Homo sapiens: one gene and its partners. The protein of the gene in region 2 interacts with the protein of the main gene of each other region in a biochemical or structural test. Each region holds a gene or a part of one and is shown on either strand. Other genes may lie near its edges. The genes, in order: GRIP1, CARM1 and MEF2D.

Region 1 (3,822 bases), on a different chromosome or scaffold from region 2:
TCAGGAGTTCGAGACCAGCCTGCCCAAAATGGTGAAACTCCATCTCTACTAGAAATACAAAATTAGCCGGGCATGGTGGTGGGCGCCTGTAATCCCAGCTACTTGGGAGCTGGCTGAGGCAGGAGAATCGCTTGAACCTGGGAGGCATAGGTTGCAGTGAGCCAAGATCACGCCACTGCACTCCAGCCTGGATGACAAGAGAGAAACTCTGTCTGAAATAAATAAATACATAGATACATTTTGTTACTGTTAGAATCCATCCTTGGTTCTGTTCTCTTCTTTGTTATAAGGCCACCAAGGGCAACTTGTCCTAAACCCCACCCTTCAGTATCCTAAATCTTTAACTCTGGCTCTAATATCTCTCCTCACCAACAGATCCAAACCACCAAATGCTTCCCAGACTGCTCTATCACAATGTGCTGAAAATATTAAAGACTCATTAGTTCTGAAAGAGCTGTCTTATCTTACCTACCCCTACCTGGACTCCTTGCCTGTGATCTTCTCCTCCCCAACCCACCTTCGATAAACCCATAATAATATTGTATTGCCTTTCTATGTTACCAATTATATCATTATCCTGCTTAAGAAACTAATATGCCTCCAGCATAAAGTTCAAGAGCTTTACCATCACATTCAAGGCCCTTTATAATCTGAATGTAGTCTACTTTTACAGCCTCAACTGCGATGAGAGTAGAGCTAGCTCTATTTATGGATTAGGAAGACACTCATAGAAGGTAAGTAACTTGTCCATAGTTATTCATTCAGCAAATATTAGCATGTCTGCGGAAAACTAAGTGTCCCCAAACTCCTAGGATAAGACTAATTGTTCTATTGCCATAGTAAAAATCATCACCAGAATTGATTCCAAAACTATCAAATTGATCAGTGACAACTTGCTTCAGCGAACACATCCCTGAAAGCCAACCAATGAGTGGCAGCCTCCTGCTTTGAAAGTCAGCTGTTTGGTGACAAACTGTTTCCAGGTGAGTACACTGCTAAGACTGACTTCAACCCACTCCATTTTCCTGCAAAATGCTCTTCCCAAAAACTGTACATAAGATCAGAAATCTGCTTTCCTAAATAAAACTATACCTGACCTCAATGTTACTATATTTAAAGTAAGCAAGGTTCAGCTTTTTGGTTTCAGATATTGTGAGAGATACTGAGATATCAAATACCACATAATGGGAAATGAGAGAATAAGGTACTATCCCTGCTCTCAAAAAGTTTACAATCTGCTGGGGAGTATATGCAGGGAAACAGGAAGGTGGTTTTTTTTTTTTTTTTTTTGGAAACTCACTCTGCACCCAGGCTGGAGTACAGTGGCATGATCTCGGCTCACTGCAACCTCTGAACAGGCAGTTTTAATAATGTAAATTCTACCAAAAGCAAAAGCTGCTGTTCGATATAGGAGGGGCCCCTAGTCCAGACTTGAGGTAAAGGAGGTTGGGTGGTGTCTGGTGAAGTTAGGCTTTGAAGGGGAGTCCTCTAAACTAGTGGTTTTCAATTTGGCTGCTCACTGGAATCACTGGGGGAGGTGTAAAAACACACCGATGCCGTATCTGTCTCCTAGAGTCGCTGGTTTAATTGGTCTGGCATTTGATTGAACATTGGGATACATTCTCTAGGTGATTCCATTTTTTCAATCAAGGTTGAGAATCGCTGATCTATGTGAGACCAAAAAGTTGAGTCGGAATGAGGCAGGTAAGGCCTAGGGATTAGAAGAGCATTCAGAGAAAGGAAAGAGTATATAAGGCTCAGAGCCAATGCGCTTCTATTCTGCTGTGCAGTACTGAGCACTTTTATGTGACAGCATTGTTCTTGGAACTGAGAATAGAGTGGAGAATAAAATCGCTGCCCTCATGGAGTTACATTCTAGTGGGCAACACAGAATAAGCAAATAACTAGCATCATCTGTGGTTGTACTGCGAACCAAGAAAGAAGGGTGAAGAATGGAGAGGCAGGAAAGGCCCTTTTAGACGGAGTGGTTTAAGTCGCAGCATGTGAGCAGGGACCTGAAGTAGAGGAAGGAGCAGGGAAAGAGCCTGTGCATGTTTAGCAGAGAAGCGCCACAAGCTCAGGGCACAGCAGGTGCAAAGGCCAGGAGGTGGCAGCATACACCATTCCTGAAACAAATCCAGCTGAAGCTAGAGAGTATACGAAGAGGTTGCGCACAGTGGCTCACACCTATAATCCCAGCACTTTGGGAGGCCGAGGTGGGTGGATCACTTGAGGTCAGGAGTATGAGACCAGCCTGGCCAACCTGGTGAAACACGGTCTCTACTAAAAATACAAAAATTAGCCACGCATGGTGGTGTGCACCTGTAATCCCAGCTACTCGGGAGGCTGAGGCAGGAGAATCACTTGAATGCAGGAGGCAGAGGTTGCAGTGAGTTAAGATCGTGCCACTGCACTCCAGCCTGAGACTCTGTCTCAAAAAAAAAAAAAAAAGGAAAAAAGATTCTAACTAACTTTCCATCAACTTCAAAAGGTCCGTCATCAACCCTCCAATTAGTTAGCAAATTGCATTCTGGCTGGGTGTGGTGGAAGGCACCTGTAATCCCAGCTACTTGGGAGGCCGAGGCAGGAGAATCTCTTGAACCTGCAAGGTGGCGGTTGCAGTGAACCAAGATCACGCCACTCCACTCCAGTGACAGAGCGAGACTCTGTCTCAAAAATGAATGAATGAATGAATGAAGAGGCAAGACAAGATGCTGGCAAGGTAAGGAGAGGCCAAATCCCTGGGGCCTTGTAGGTCATGTAGAAGACAAGTGGTAGGAAGGACTAGACTGGTGGTGCCTGGAGTCGGATAACTACGTCATATTTATGGGACTACTGTGCGATGGTGGGAGATGACCGTGGTTGGGTGAAATCTGTGAGATTGGGAAAGATGGCTCTGAGCTCAGTGCCGAAAAAAACTGGTAAGAAACCACAGAACTTTGGGGTCTGGGTTAGAATTTACTAGAGCTGAAAATTCTTTATTCAGCTGTTTGCTTCTACTGATTCCATAATCTTGATGACAAAGGCTGAAAGGGAAAAGAGCAAAGGGCCCCAAATATGCAGGAGGATGTGGAGGAAGCTCCCAGTGAGAAATTACTTGCAAGGAATTAAAATTCCACCTGAGGTCTTACCTGTAAGAGCCTGTCATAGGGCTTTAAGCCACCAAGATCTCCTGGCCCAGCTGGGCGAATATTTTTGACATACACTCCTTTCTCCAGTAAGCCATCTGCTACACTGAACCCAAAGTCCTCCATGTCAGAGTCCTTGTACAAGGTCACCTGAAGAGAGAAAATGGGATGTGAATATTTAGCTGGGGTGGAGACTTTTCCTTCTGCAACTTCTTGATGAACAATCTTTTCACACGAATTTAGTCACATCATGATTTGTAATATCAGCATCAGTCAGCTCCCTGCACCAATCCTGCAGCCTTTTTTTCCCACTCCAAGAATATCTTTGGACTTTATGAATTCCCAACCAAAGCTGAAAAAGGAGGAGAACTGGAACGTCTGGGTCCTCCCTCCCTCCTTTTCAGTCGTCATCAGGGGGATATAGGAGAGAACTTCCTCAAGGCAAGTTGACTTCTACTATTTTCCTGGGGCAACCTCTGGTCAGAGGAGCTGCCCGCAGCAGCCCTTTACAACTGCTGAGATGTTGGGGAATAAGCCAAAGGCCTTTCCTTCCTCCCCACTCCTGCCTGGTGCTCTGCTAAGCACAGTGCTCGGCGTATCCTCTCTTTGGGCAAGTACCATGAAGTTCATCCTTTTATTTGCTCTGGAACCCCCAATGAGCACCATCACAGAACACTATGTAAAAGACCTGAAT
Region 2 (3,822 bases):
GACAGACACAGACCCATGAGGGACAGACACTGGGAACACAGGACACACACACACATACACACACACACACACACACCCCACCCACAACAGTCTCTTGCTCCGAGACAGGCTCTCACTCCCATTGGAAGGGATGGTGGAACCTGGAGCCATGTTCCACCCCCCCAGCCAGGTTGCAGCTGCAGGAAGCCCTGGGAGTGGGGAGGAGGCAGCATGGGCTGCTCTGCGGCACTCACATGGAGCCGATGAAAGCAACGTCAAACCAGAAAGCCAGGCCGTGGACCAGCCCTGAATGCAGCATGTGGAATTTGAATGGGATTTCTATCCTGGAAGGCAAAGGGCAGTGGCTGCTGGGGAAGCCAGACAGGCGCTGCCGAGAGAGAAGAGGGGGTGCCAGGTGCAGAGGCCTGGGGCCCCCGCCCACCATCTGCCCTGGGACGGCAGGATGCCGGCGGGAGCCAGGGGTGGCCCTGACCTTCGGCCTGAGCCAGGCCTGGGAGGATGGAGTGTGGGTGCCAGTACCTGTGCAAATCTCCTTCTTTGGCTTCTAAGAAGTTCACCGTGTACTTGACAGACTTGGCCATCAGGATCCGGATGTCAAATGTGTCCTGGGAGAGACCACAGGTGTGACGTGGCATCTGACGCCAGGGCCAGCATGGGAGGGGAGAGCCCTGCCCCTTCCCCCAGGTCTGCCCACGGCTTCTAGGCTGTGCAGCTAAAACGAGCTTGCTCTTCCCAGACACGCCGTGAGGAGGGGACCGGCACAACGCCACCGAGGGCAATCAGGTGACAGCTCTCCAAATGACAAGTGTTTATCCACATAAAAGATTTGGCACTACAGGAGTTTAACCTCCAGATACATGAACACATCAACAAACTTACATGTATAATTAGATTGTCCGTGGTAGCGACACACTGGAAACCATCTAATTAAACCAGTGATGGCTCTCCCATCAAAGACCATGCGGACGTGAGAAAGAATGAAGAGGCTCTTTATGAACAGATGAGGAAAGATCTCCAAGCTAAATCATTAAGCAAGTTAACCAAAAAAGCAAGTTAAAGAACTAGGTGCTAGCTGGGTGTGGAATTGTATGCCTGTAACTCCAGCTACTCAGGAGGCTGAGGCAGGAGGATCGCTTAAGCCCGAGAGTGTGAATCAAGCCTGGGAAACACAGGGAGACCCTGTCTCTTAAAAACAACAACAACACTAGTGCTGCTGTCCACTCCCAGCAATGTTTATATCCGACTAACACACCTGCCATGAACTATGTAAACCGAATAAAATCCAAAGAAAAGAATAAACCAGTTGTTGGAAGCACTGGTGACCAACCAGAGCGGCCAGGATTTTGGGGATCAAGCTCCTGGAAAGGAGGGAAATGCCCTTTCTGGAGGGAGCCCTTTCTGGCCTCTACCTTTTCCCCATGGGGAGGGCAGAAAACGGCCACCTCGACCTTTCAGCAGCTTCCTTGGGTGGGGAAAGCAAAATGGGAGCTCAGGGTTACCAAGGCAGCTCGGATTCAAGGGGCTGTGATGTCAAAGCAAAGGGAAATAAGTGCAGGAGGGCAAGGTGGGCGGTGCACACTCAGTGCGCTTGTGAAATTGGCCAACTCCTGAGCTTTGAGCGAGGCAGGGCATCAGAGGCTAAGACACCAAGCAGAAAGCCGCTAATAAGAGGCTCAACGCCAGGTGCAGTGGCTTATGCCTATAATCCCAGCACTTTGGGAGGCCGAGGCGGACGGATCACCTGAGGTCAGGAGTTCAAGACCAGCCTGAGTAACACAGTGAGGCCCCATATCTACAAAAAAATAAATTAGCCGGGCATGGTGGCACACTCCTATAGTTCCAGCTACTTGGGAAGCTGAGGCAGGAGGATCACTTGCGTCTGGGAGATCGAGGCTGAAGTAAGCCATGAAGTGATTGAGCCACTGTACTCCAGCCTGGGGAACAGAGTGAGATCCTGTTTCAAAAAACAATAAAAGCTAACGGGTGGTTCAGCAGCATATTGGTAATGAGGCTAACCACTGGACTTGCATTAACATTACCAAAGGCTGTACCATAAAGCAGCACCTTCTCAAACTGTGGCCTCTTCCAAGGCACCCTCATCATAATACAAAATTTGCATAATACCACCAAAATATTTCCTGCTTTTTTCACTCATTCACTCCCCAGTGATATCACAAAAGACTGAACACGCTGGGCATGGTGGCTCACGCCTGTAATCCCAGCACTTTGGGAGGCCGAGGCAGGCGGATCACCTAAGGTCAGGAGTTTCAGACCAGCCTGGCCAACATGGCGAAACCCCATCTCTACTAAAATTACAAAAAACTAGCTGGGAGTGGTGGCAAGCGCCTGTACTCCCAGCTACTCAGGAGTCTGAGAATCGCTTGAGCCCGGAAAGTGGAGGTTGCAGTGAGCTGACATCATGCCACAGCACTCCAGCCTGGGCAACAGAGCAAGACTCCGTCTCAAAAAAAAAAAAAAAAAGAAAAAGAAAATGAGAGAAAAAAATGGATGGAAAAGACAGAAAAGAGTATAACAATCATCTGAGATATGGTGAAAAGGTTCACTGTACACGTAATTGGAATCCCAGAAGGAGAAAGAATGGGGCAGACGTAGTGTTTAAAGAGATAGTATCCAAGATAGTCCAAGAGTCTCCCAAAACGAATGAAAAACATCAAGAGCAGGGGGAAAACAGAATAAAATGGAACCTTTTTTTCTTTTTTTTTGAGACGGAGTCTCACTCTGTCGCCCAGGCTGGAGTGCAGTGGTGCGATCTCGGCTCACTGCAAGCTCTGCCTCCCGGGTTCACGCCATTCTCCTGCCTCAGCCTCCTGAGTAGCTGGGACTACAGGCGCCCGCCACCACGTCTGGCTAATTTTTTGTATTTTTAGTAGAGATGGGGTTTCACCGTGTTGGTCTCAATCTCCTAACCTCGTGATCTGCCCGCCTTGGCCTCCCAAAGTGCTGGGATTACAGGTGTGACCCACTGCACCTAGCTTTTTTTTCCTTTTGATTTTTAAATCATGGATCTATGTATCAAAAATCTCAAGTAAAATCAATCAATAAATCACATCAGCTCACCAAGGATAAATTCATCTAGTAATGGTTCTTTTTTATTTTTATTATTTATTTATTTTAATTTTAAAAATAGCGATGGCGTCTCTGTGTTGCCCAGGCTGATCTTGAACTCCTGAGCCTAAATGCCCCCTCTGCCTTAGCCTCACCTAATAATGTTCCACATGTATTGCATGTGTGCTGTGTGCTAAGTGTCTACATGCATTGACACTTTTGGCCCAAATCTCTGTGAGAGCGCTGTGCAGGGCAGAGGAGAGGGCTCAGAGAGGGGCTGTAGCTTCCTGAGGGCTGCACAGCTGCACAGCAATGGCAAGTGATCACTGCAGCAGTACCCTGGAGGCCCTACTCACCACCACAGGCTGCCGGAAATACTCATCCACCGCGGCACCTCGGAGGGCCGACAGGTCCACTCCATGGAAAGATGGCTGGTACCTGTGGACAGGCCCCACCCCCACAGCAAGGTCAGGGCTGCAGAAGAGGCAGGTGGGGTAGCCCTGCCTTCTCTCCCAGTCAGCCCTCATCTAGCCCAAGTCTTTCAGAAAAAGAGGAGTGCAGGCTCTCTGGGGAGCTGGGGCTGTCCCTGAGAAGGCAGGCTGTGGGGCCCAGGCGGGACACCCAGGGCACACTCACCAGAAGTTGGCCTTGGTGAACTGCTCCATGTAGAGCTGTTCATCCGTGAAGGGTGCAAGGTGGACGTCACCAATGGTAGGAAACATGTTTCCTGGGAGTGGGGCAGGGAGGGGTGCTGGC
Region 3 (3,600 bases), on a different chromosome or scaffold from region 2:
AGGGGAGGGGAGCAAGAACAACAGCAGAAGAATCTCGTCTGTACAGTACGGGCCGTTTGAGTCATTATTATTACAATATACTTTGACAAAAATAGAATCTCATTTCATATCAATACAACAACAACAAAAAAAAACAGTTTCCTGGACTGTTACACCGCTAACGTTTTCCAAAGGTCGCTATTTACAATTACAGTAGCCAAGAGGGAAGGTGGGATGCAGCCTGGAGGTGGTGGGACAAGGAGGTAGCCAGAGACAATAGGGGCGCCAAGAGCAAGGAGGTGGGGTCAGGAGCAGAAGGAGCTAACAGGAGAAGCTAGGGAGAGGGGCCAAGGAGGAATGAGGGAGGTGGGACCTCTACGGACCCATCCGTAGGCCCTCCCACCCCACAGACCATCCCAGTGTTGACTCCCCCAGGTAGTGTGCGTGCAAGACCAAGGACGTCCCCTCACCACACTCGCCCCAATGAAAGAGCTCTGGCCTGGAGCACCCCAGGGAAGTCCAGGCCGACTCTCGCCCCAGCCACCTCACTGAAGACCCTCTCCCCATTCTCCCTGCACACTGTGGCCAGCTTTACAGGGCTGGCGTCAACTGAGGGGTGGGGAGCTATTGCACTGTATATCTTAGAGAAAAACTGGGGAAGGGAGGGGCTCAATTTGCCCCCTGCCTAGCCCTTCTGCCCTCCTCAGCCCTCTCCTCATGGCTCTCTTGTCTTTCCCTCCAAATGTGCTTCCAGAGAGGCCCCCACCTCAAACCCCTGTCTCCAGCCTCAGATTCCCAGGCTGCCTTCCCGGCCCAAAGCTCAGCCAGCACCCACACACCTTGGGGGTGCAGCACACACAAGAATCAGCGCAGGTGTGGCACGTGTGTGTGCAGGGGCATTTGGGGGCCAGGCTTAAGTATTCTGCTCCATGTGCCTATGGCTACATGAACACAAAAACAGAGACCCTTTTCAGAACCTCTGCCTCACTTTCCCCTTGAAACACAAACCCACCCATCAAGCCCACTTTGGGGTTTCAGTCTAGAGTGTGGGTTTCTGTTGTTTGGTAGTTTTTTGGTTATTTCCCTCTATCTGGGGGTGGGGTGGGAGGGCTCCACATGCAGGGCTCGGCACCTGTCCTTTCCCAAAGGCCTTATTGGGCCCCCCACCCCCTTCCTGCAGCATATGTGTACAACGTGCAAAGTGTCCCCCCTTCCCGCGAAAAAGAGAGCCCCCCAGCCAGTGAAAATGGTGGGGGGTACAGAAAGAGGGGATGAGAGCATCCCCCTCTCCAAAGCGAGAATCCAAATTAAAAAAAATATAATAATAATAATAATAATATAATAATTATACACAAATGTAACCGTCAACAGGACACGAAGCACAAGAAAGGAAGTGGGGGTCGAGCGGGAGGAGCCCGGGGCAGGGAAGGGCGGGCGGTGAGATTGTCAACTCTTCATCAGGGAGGCTGAGAGGAGGGGAGTGGGAATCGTCACTTTAATGTCTGTGAAGAGAGGAGATGGAGAAGGGGGTGTGAGGGGGTGGCCCAGGCTTTGGGTATGCACCCCCCACTCCCCTCTCCCCATAGGGCCAGGATTCTAGTGGCAGGGCCAGCTGTGAGGGGAAGAAGTCATCGAGCAGAAGGACTGATGCTGGAGGGAGGGAGAAGATGGGCCTTTGGCAGGGGTGAAGGGGTGTTGGTGCTGCCCTAGAAGGGCTGGCGGAAGGGGTAGCCGGCCACAAGGCCTCTTGGGTGGGAAATAAAACAGGTTAGGGGGCACGCGGGGCAGTCCCTGGGTGTAGCAGACACTGGCAGACAGGAGAGGTGATGCTACAGTACCCAGGTATCAAGCCGCATCCTCTTCACAGCTGAGCCCTCAGCCTCAGGCTCTGGGGCTGGGCGCAGCAGGCCCAGTGTGGGCCCGAAGTCCCCCCGTCCGTCATCCCGGTCTCCCGTCTCATAGGATCCCCCGGCTGGGCTGCTGAGACCATCGCCAGGCTCAGGGCGGGCAGCTGGGAACACAGCTGGAGGGGGAGGCGCAGGGCTGCGCTCACGGCTTGGGGACACCGGTTCTGACTTGATGCTGATGTGGGGGTGGGTGGTGACTGTGAGGGCAGCACCCACGTGGGGCAGGGGGCTGCCCGGGCTGGAGGCAGGCAATGGAAATGGGGTACAAGGGATAAAAACAGAGGGGGTGAGTGACAGAACAAGTGATAGGACACCAGACAGAAAGTGAGAGAGAACAAGAGGATGAGAATATGGGGGATGGGGTGTTGGGGAGAGGCAATTGGATGGAGAGTGATCAGAAGAGGGTCGAATGAAGGGAAGAGAAGGGAAATAAGAAATATTAGTTCTCTTTCCATCCCATGTCATCTTCTGCAACACAGGGCCCCCCACCTCCCACCCCCTACCCTGGGGCTGGCTCTCAGAAGGGGTTCAGGGTGAGCCTCTTGGGTCTGTACAAGAGAGCCCAGGGGTGCCACTGTTGCCTAACAGACTGTGCAGTGCACAGCCTCATAGGATGTCCACTAGAACCCTGCAGGGAACCCAGCTCCCAAGAGGTCCCTCCTCTTCCCGTTCAATTCTCCCTTCCCACACACTCACATGCAGTCTCCCCAGGACTCACATGAGGTTGCTGAGAGATACAGGGACCAGGTGGGACTGTTGCTGAGGTGGCTGTTGCGGCTGCTGAGGCTGCTGTGGCTGTGGCTGCTGTGGCTGCGGTGGCTGCTGCTGTGGAGGCTGTGGCTGCTGCGGCTGCTGGGGCTGCTGTGGCTGTTGCCAGGCAGTGACATTGCCTAGCGACAGCCCCCCAGGTGAACTAAAGGCTGGTAAGGAGGAGAGCTCTGCACTGGTCAACTGGTAATCTGCATGGAGGAAAAGTGAGGATGAACCTGGAGTTGGGGAGAGCACACAGGCTCCTATGAGGGAGCTGCCTCCAGGAGGACTGTGGGGATGAGGGGACAGGGAGTGTGTAATGACAGATGTAAGGAATTCAAGAAGACCACAAAAATTCAGTGAAGACGGTACTCAGAGTTAAAGAAACCTAAGTCATAATAACCATGAGGTGCTGTGTTTTAACAGGATGAAAAGATGTGGTTTTTGTTTTGTTTTGTTTTTTTGAGATGGAGTCTCACTCTATTGCCCAGGCTGGAGTGCAGTGGTGTGATCTTGGCTCACTACAACCTCTGCCTCCCACGTTCAAGCAAATCTCCTGCCTCGGCCTCCTAAATGGCTGGGATTACAGGCACATGCCACCACGCCCAGCTAATTTTTGTATTTTTAGTAGAGATGGGGTTTTGCTATGCTGGCAAGGCTGGTCTCAAACTCCTGACCTCAAGTGATTCGCCCACCTCGGCCTCCCAAAGTGCTGGGATTACAGGCATGAGCCACCGCATCCGACCAAGAGGTGGTTTTTAAAAATAGTGTTGAACTTAAAAAAAAAAAAAAAAACAGCTGGGCGAGTGGCTCATGTCTATAATCCCAGCACTTTGAGAGGTCAAGGCAGAAGGACCACTTGAGCCCAGAGTTTGAGACCAGACTGGGCAACATAAGGAGACTCCATCTCTACAAATAGCTTAAAAATTAGCTAGGGTGGTGGGGTGCACTGTAGTTCCAGTTA

The links.
Region 1: the proteins of CARM1 (region 2) and GRIP1 form a complex in vitro, tested with the Homo sapiens proteins (2 studies listed by BioGRID).
Region 3: the proteins of CARM1 (region 2) and MEF2D form a complex in vitro, tested with the Homo sapiens proteins (one study listed by BioGRID).

What each region holds. Positions count from the first base shown.
Region 1 is NC_000012.12:66,350,286-66,354,107, forward strand, and holds part of GRIP1 (glutamate receptor-interacting protein 1), read right to left. Parts: intron 3,279-3,822; coding exon 3,132-3,278; intron 1-3,131. UniProt on the Homo sapiens protein: May play a role as a localized scaffold for the assembly of a multiprotein signaling complex and as mediator of the trafficking of its binding partners at specific subcellular location in neurons.
Region 2 is NC_000019.10:10,916,378-10,920,199, reverse strand, and holds part of CARM1 (histone-arginine methyltransferase CARM1), read right to left. Parts: intron 3,794-3,822; coding exon 3,703-3,793; intron 3,505-3,702; coding exon 3,423-3,504; intron 606-3,422; coding exon 520-605; intron 324-519; coding exon 234-323; intron 1-233. UniProt on the Homo sapiens protein: Methylates (mono- and asymmetric dimethylation) the guanidino nitrogens of arginyl residues in several proteins involved in DNA packaging, transcription regulation, pre-mRNA splicing, and mRNA stability.
Region 3 is NC_000001.11:156,466,176-156,469,775, forward strand, and holds part of MEF2D (myocyte-specific enhancer factor 2D), read right to left. Parts: intron 2,846-3,600; coding exon 2,605-2,845; intron 2,125-2,604; coding exon 1,818-2,124; intron 1,482-1,817; coding exon 1,470-1,481; 3' UTR 1-1,469. UniProt on the Homo sapiens protein: Transcriptional activator which binds specifically to the MEF2 element, 5'-YTA[AT](4)TAR-3', found in numerous muscle-specific, growth factor- and stress-induced genes.